2 linked regions of the Homo sapiens genome follow. The protein of the gene in region 1 purifies or fractionates together with the protein of each later gene. This does not show direct contact. Each region holds a gene or a part of one and is shown in the gene's direction. Other genes may lie near its edges. The genes, in order: GOLM2 and KDM3A.

Region 1 (3,101 bases):
AACCTAAAGTGCTGTAAAATGAAATCATTCTACTTTGTCCTTTCTGACTTTTGTTGTAAAGACGAATTGTATCAGTTGTAAAGATACATTGAGATAGAATTAAGGAAAAACTTTAATGAAGGAATGTACCCATGTACATATGTGAACTTTTTCATATTGTATTATCAAGGTATAGACTTTTTTGGTTATGATACAGTTAAGCCAAAAACAGCTAATCTTTGCATCTAAAGCAAACTAATGTATATTTCACATTTTATTGAGCCGACTTATTTCCACAAATAGATAAACAGGACAAAATAGTTGTACAGGTTATATGTGGCATAGCATAACCACAGTAAGAACAGAACAGATATTCAGCAGAAAACTTTTTATACTCTAATTCTTTTTTTTTTTTTTTTTGAGACAGAGTTTTAGTCTTGTTTCCCAGGCTGGAGTGCAATGGCACAATCTTGGCTCACTGCAACCTCCGCCTCCTGGGTTCAGGCAATTTTCCTGCCTCAGCCTCCCAAGTAGCTGGGATTACAGGCACCCACCACCATGCCCAGCTAATTTTTGTATTTTTAATAGAGAGCTAATAATTGTATATTTAATAAAGACGGGTTTCACCATGTTGGCCAGGCTGGTCTTGAACTCCTGACCTCAGGTGATCCTCCTGCATTGGCCTCCCAAAGTGCTGGAATTCCAGGCATGAGCCACTGCGCCCAGTCTACACACTAATTCTTGTTAGCCCAACAGCTGTTCTGTTCTATCTACCCCTCATTTCACGCTCAAGGAGTCATACCTAGAATAGTTACACACAAGAGGGAAACTGGAAGCCAAACACTGTACAGTATTGTGTAGAAAGTCACCTCCCTACTCCTTTTATTTTACATGAGTGCTGATGTGTTTTGGCAGATGAGCTTTCAGCTGAGGCCTGATGGAAATTGAGATAACCTGCAAAGACATAACAGTATTTATGAGTTATATCTTAGTTCTTGAAATTGTGGAATGCATGATTGACAATATATTTTTAATTTTTATTTTTTCAAGTAATACCAGTACTGTTTAACTATAGCCAGAACTGGCTAAAATTTTTATATTTTCAGAGTTGAAGTTGGTGAAGACATTCATGATTTAAACACCAGATCCTGAAAGGGGTTAAATCTACTTTGAAATGAATCTGCAATCAGTATTTCAAAGCTTTTCTGGTAATTTTAGTGATCTTATTTGATTAGACTTTTTCAGAAGTACTAAATAAGGAATTTTAACAGGTTTTTATTAATGCACAGATAAATAGAAGTACAGTGAGGTCTATAGCCATTTTATTAAAATAGCTTAAAAGTTTGTAAAAAAATGAATCTTTGTAATTACTTAATATGTTAGTTAAGAACCCGTCAAGCTTATATTTGCTAGACTTACAAATTATTTTAAATGCATTTATCTTTTTTGACACTATTCAGTGGAATGTGTAAGCTAGCTAATTCTTGTTTTCTGATTTAAAGCACTTTTAAATCTTATCCTGCCCCCTAAAAACAAAAGGTTTTGATCACAAGGGGAAATTTAAGATTGTTAACCCTGTTTTTCAGAAGGGCTACTGTTAATTGCACATAAACATGAAATGTGTTTTCCCCTGTGTACTAACACATTCTAGGCAAAATTCAAACTTATAGTGGTAAAGAAACAGGTTGTTCACTTGCTGAGGTGCAAAAATTCTTAAGACTTCTGTTTGAAATTGCTCAATGACTAGGAAAAGATGTAGTAGTTTACTAAAATTGTTTTTCTACCATATCAAATTAAACAATTCATGCCTTTATAGGGTCAGGCCTACAATGAATAGGTATGGTGGTTTCACAGAATTTTAAAATAGAGTTAAAGGGAAGTGATGTACATTTCGGGGGCATTAGGGTAGGGAGATGAATCAAAAAATACCCCTAGTAATGCTTTATATTTTAATACTGCAAAAGCTTTACAAATGGAAACCATGCAATTACCTGCCTTAGTTCTTTTGTCATAAAAACAATCACTTGGTTGGTTGTATTGTAGCTATTACTTATACAGCAACATTTCTTCAATTAGCAGTCTAGACATTTTATAAACAGAAATCTTGGACCAATTGATAATATTTCTGACTGTATTAATATTTTAGTGCTATAAAATACTATGTGAATCTCTTAAAAATCTGACATTTTACAGTCTGTATTAGACATACTGTTTTTATAATGTTTTACTTCTGCCTTAAGATTTAGGTTTTTTAAATGTATTTTTGCCCTGAATTAAGTGTTAATTTGATGGAAACTCTGCTTTTAAAATCATCATTTACTGGGTTCTAATAAATTAAAAATTAAACTTGTTTCACTGTTTTGCTGATTCTAATACATACACAAACATCACACCCATGATGTAAATACATTTTAACACTAAAATCTGAGTAAGTTTAGCACTCATTTTAAGTTAAGCTAAACTAAAAAACCAAATTTTTTTTTTTGAAACGGAGTCTCACTCTGTTGCCCAGGCTGGAGTGCAGTGGCGCATCTCAGCTCACTGCAACTTCTGTCTCCCGGATTCAAGCAATTCTCCTGCCTCAGCCTCCCAAGTAGCTGGGATTACAGGCACGTGCCACCACACCTGGCTAATTTTTGTATTTTTGGTAGAGACAGGGTTTCACCATGTTGGCCAGGCTGGTCTCAAACTCCTGACCTCAGGTGATCCACCTGCCTTGACCTCCCAAAGTGCTGGGATTACAGGCATGAGCTACCATACCCGTCCTGAAAACCAAATATTTTTACACCAGGGCTCTTTACTGTAGGTCTAGTTTATTCAACAAATATTGAATGCCTATTATGTGCCCAGCATTGTTCTAGGTATTAAGATAAGTGGATAAGATAGACAAGGTCTCTGTTCGCATGGAGCGTACATTCAAGTGGGGGCAGTCAGACAATACACAAGTAAACAAATGAACAAGACAACTTTAAATAGTGTTAAAGAGCTATTAAAAATAAAAGTCCTGGCTGGGCGCAGTGGCTCACTCCTATAATCCCAGCACTTTGGGAGGCTGAGGCGGGCAGATCACCAGGTCAAGAGTTCGAGACCAGCCTGACCAACATGGTGAAACCGTGTCTCTA
Region 2 (3,831 bases), on another chromosome or scaffold:
ATCAATCAGCTATTCTATTTGCTCTGTGTGCTGATCACTGAACAAACAAGAATGAAATTATTCTCTGTTAGGGCTGGTTACATGTTGCTCATAGCAGAAAAGGGTTTTGTGCTGCTGCCAGTTTGTTAGTTTTTTTTTAGTTTTTGAGGTTTTTTAGAGACAGGATCTTGCTCTGTTGCCCAGGAGGGAGTGCAGTTGCAGTGGTACAGTCAAAGTTTAAGTTTACTGCAGCTTTGAACTCCTGGGCTCAATTGATCCTCTTGCCTTAGCCTCCCAAGTAGCTGGGACTACAGGCGCGTGCCACCACACCAGGCTAATTTTTAATTTTTTTGTAGAGATGGGGGACTTGCTATTTTGCCCAGTCTGGTCATGAACTCCTGGCCTCTAGCAGTCCTCTCATCTTGGCCTCCCAGAATCCTGGGATTACAGGTGTGAGCCCTTGTGCCTTGCCCATTGTTCGTTTTTAATTAGATTTTGTGTGAATATCTTTGAAGGGATTTCTAACATTTTTTATATACGTATATATTTTAGAATTTTTATCTTGACACATTGACCTTTACTAGAGGTTCAATTTTTGACTCTTGGCAAGTAGCAAGAATGGAGTTTTATCTTTAAAATTCAAACATAATCTTTACTATAGAAGAAAGAGTTTTAGCAGAGGTTTCTCTGAAATTTACACACAAAAAAAAAAAAAAAAAAAGAAGAAAGAAAACTTTCGGAATTGCCCCTACACAGACTTCTGGTTTTGATACTTATAAACCAGCTTATCTGCTGAGTATATTCTTTGGTTTCATACAATATTTTGTTTTGAGGGAAAGCTAAGGTTCATTGTGCTGTGAGAAGTAGAACTAACGTAAGAAGTTAAAGATTTCTGAGAACGTGCAGACATAATTTAGGGTTGTATTTTTCTGAGTGTTTATGATTTTTGCAGAACCATTGACTGATGACTTTTAACTCTAGCTCACAGAAATCTATCCTAAATTCTGTAACATATGAGAAATTTTCTTTTTTCTTTCATACTCGTTACCTTAGGGAACCAAACAGTTTGTTTGGGGAAGATAATGGAGAGATAAAAAGAGGCCTGGATGCTAGCTTTCTATATTATATTTTTCAGATGTCATAAACAAAGTTTACCAGAGGAAATTTCTTCCTGTCTAAATACAAAGTCTGAAGCTCTGAGAACAAAACCAGATGTCTGCAAAGCAGGGTTGCTCTCAAAGTCCTCTCAGATTGGAACTGGAGACTTGAAAATTCTGACTGAGCCAAAAGGCAGCTGTACTCAGCCTAAGACAAACACTGATCAGGAAAACAGATTGGAGTCTGTTCCACAAGCATTGACTGGCCTTCCTAAGGAGTGCTTACCTACAAAGGCTTCTTCTAAGGCAGAATTGGAAATTGCCAATCCTCCTGAACTGCAGAAGCACCTAGAACATGCACCTTCCCCATCGGATGTTTCAAATGCACCAGAAGTGAAAGCAGGTGTCAATAGTGATAGCCCTAATAACTGTTCAGGAAAAAAGGTAGAACCTTCAGCTTTAGCTTGCCGATCACAGAATTTAAAGGAATCTTCAGTAAAAGTAGATAATGAAAGCTGTTGTTCAAGAAGCAACAATAAAATCCAGAATGGTGAGTGTTTCTCAATATCTTTATTGGTAGAAGGTAAGAAATGGTAGATATATATATCTCTTTCTTGTCCTATGAGAAACTATGTGAAAATGACTTTGTAGAAATAGTTTATACAGTCAGAAAAGTTGAAAGAAGGTATAATTCCCAAATCTCAGAAACGATTACTGTTAATATTTTGGTGTACCTGGTTTCATGTATATAGAAATACAGATAAACTGTATTACACAAATGGGTTCATGCCAATAATTTTACCCTGTGAATTAGTGTAGGTGTCTATTAGTATTTTAAAGCAAGGATTCCATTATGTTCATTTACCATAGGATTTAACTGGTTCCTATTAGGTGGGTAATTAGGTGGTTCCCAATTCTTAGGTTAAGAAAATTTTGAAACAAAATCTAAAGTAATCTGGTGTTTACTTTATTTCAGCTTGTCACTGATCTTTCTGTTACATCCAGGTTGGAGTAGGAAGAGGTGATCTGTGACAGGTAGCTAAGATTTGAAATTTTAGAAAAGATGCAGAATTGTATCATTTCTGGAAAAAGGACTTGGGTTAAAGATGTTACGGATAGGGCTGAACTACCAGGAAGAGTCTCTTTGCTTAAGGGGAGGTCCTGCTGCACCCACAATTTAAAACTACTCTTCTTATGGGGAAATTGGTACGTTGTACTTGATGCTACTTATATGAAGTTTGAGGATGCATTATAATGGTGGTAGTTATCAGAAGCTCTGTTACTAGAGTTAGAAGAACAAAATGTTTTCAGCATGTCAAAAGGTTTAGAGCTATTAGAATTTAAAGATGCCTTTTGATCACTGTTAGCTATGTGGGAAATTGATATGGATTTTGTTAATGTTTTAGGCTGGGCATAGTAGCTAACACCTGTAATCCTAATACTTTGGGAGACCACTGTGGGAGGATTGCTTCAGACCAGGAGTTTGAGACCAGCCTGGGCAACATAGTGAGACCCCATCTCCACAAAAAATTTTTTTAAAAATCAGCCAGGCATGGTGGGGCACACCTGTTATTCCTAGCTACTGGAGAAGCTGAGGCAGGGGGGTTGCTTGACCCCAGGAGTTGGAGGCTGCGGTGAGTTATGATTGTACCACTGTACTCTAGCCTGGGCAACAGAGTGAGAGCTTGGCTCAAAAAACAAACAAACGAAAACAACCTACGAAAACAATTTATTTATTTGGATCAGTAAAAATGAATATATCTACACTATCTTTTTAACTGCAGGCCTCTGTGAAATTAGAGGGCAAGATGGCTGGATTTGACTTGCGAATCTTTTTAGTATAGCATTGGAAGAATAGAAAGAACTTTCTTTGCCTAGCAATACTTCTAACCTAGCTTCTTCATTGAGGCTTAAGTTAATATAGCTGTTAATTTGCATAAAATTAATTGCATAAGATTATCCTGTTCTCAGAAATTAGGTAACACTCAAAAGAAAGTACATATTCATAACCATATCCTTGTTCTATTTGTTGTTTTTGAATCATCAGCTCTCACACACAGCTAGTTTTTGAAGCAAATTTAATATTATGTGACGAAACAGTAAAGATTCTAGTGCAATAAGCACATGATAGATACACAAGTGAGTTACGGAGTCCAGCTTTGTCTCATTTAATATGTTATGTAGCTATTCCCCATCTAATGGATTTTAAAAGAAGTGAAAAACTTACATCCTGGAGTAGCACATCCTGCTATCTACTGTGACTTTTTTTTTTTGGTTGAGGTGTGAGAGTGTGATCAGAAGCCTACCGGGACTTCTGAGCTGTGTCCACTAGTACTGCATGTTAGTACAGAAGGCTTGGAAAACTTTTCTGCTCCTTTCTTCCACTTGGGGTCTAGAAAACAAAAGCAAACTGGAGTCAAACAGCTGCCTTTTTTTCCGTTCAGATAGATACGTGGCTCCTCGGAAGTGGGCGTTGCATTTTTCTCTTGACTTGGCTTTGAATTCAGAGAATCACTGATGGTAGCACCTGTTGCTCTCCTCAGTAAAGAGCTAGATTTAGACAGTTCAGCTTTCTTGTTTCTAGATATTTCCTCTTGTGAGCCAGGATAGAACAGATAAGATAACCTTCTTGCCTGTGATCTGTGGAAGCCTGGCTCAACTCAAAGGATGTCTTTCAATATCTGAGTAATTAAAATTACATCCTTGAACTACTAATCTCTTTATTTTCTCTCCTTTCTTACTTTACCTTCTCTTT

What was found.
Region 2: the proteins of GOLM2 (region 1) and KDM3A purify together in Homo sapiens (affinity purification with mass spectrometry; one large-scale study listed by BioGRID and IntAct). This does not show direct contact.

The regions. Positions count from the first base shown.
Region 1 is NC_000015.10:44,413,429-44,416,529, forward strand, and holds the end of GOLM2 (protein GOLM2), read left to right. Parts: 3' UTR 1-2,330; downstream 2,331-3,101.
Region 2 is NC_000002.12:86,465,258-86,469,088, forward strand, and holds part of KDM3A (lysine-specific demethylase 3A), read left to right. Parts: intron 1-1,114; coding exon 1,115-1,626; intron 1,627-3,831. UniProt on the Homo sapiens protein: Histone demethylase that specifically demethylates 'Lys-9' of histone H3, thereby playing a central role in histone code.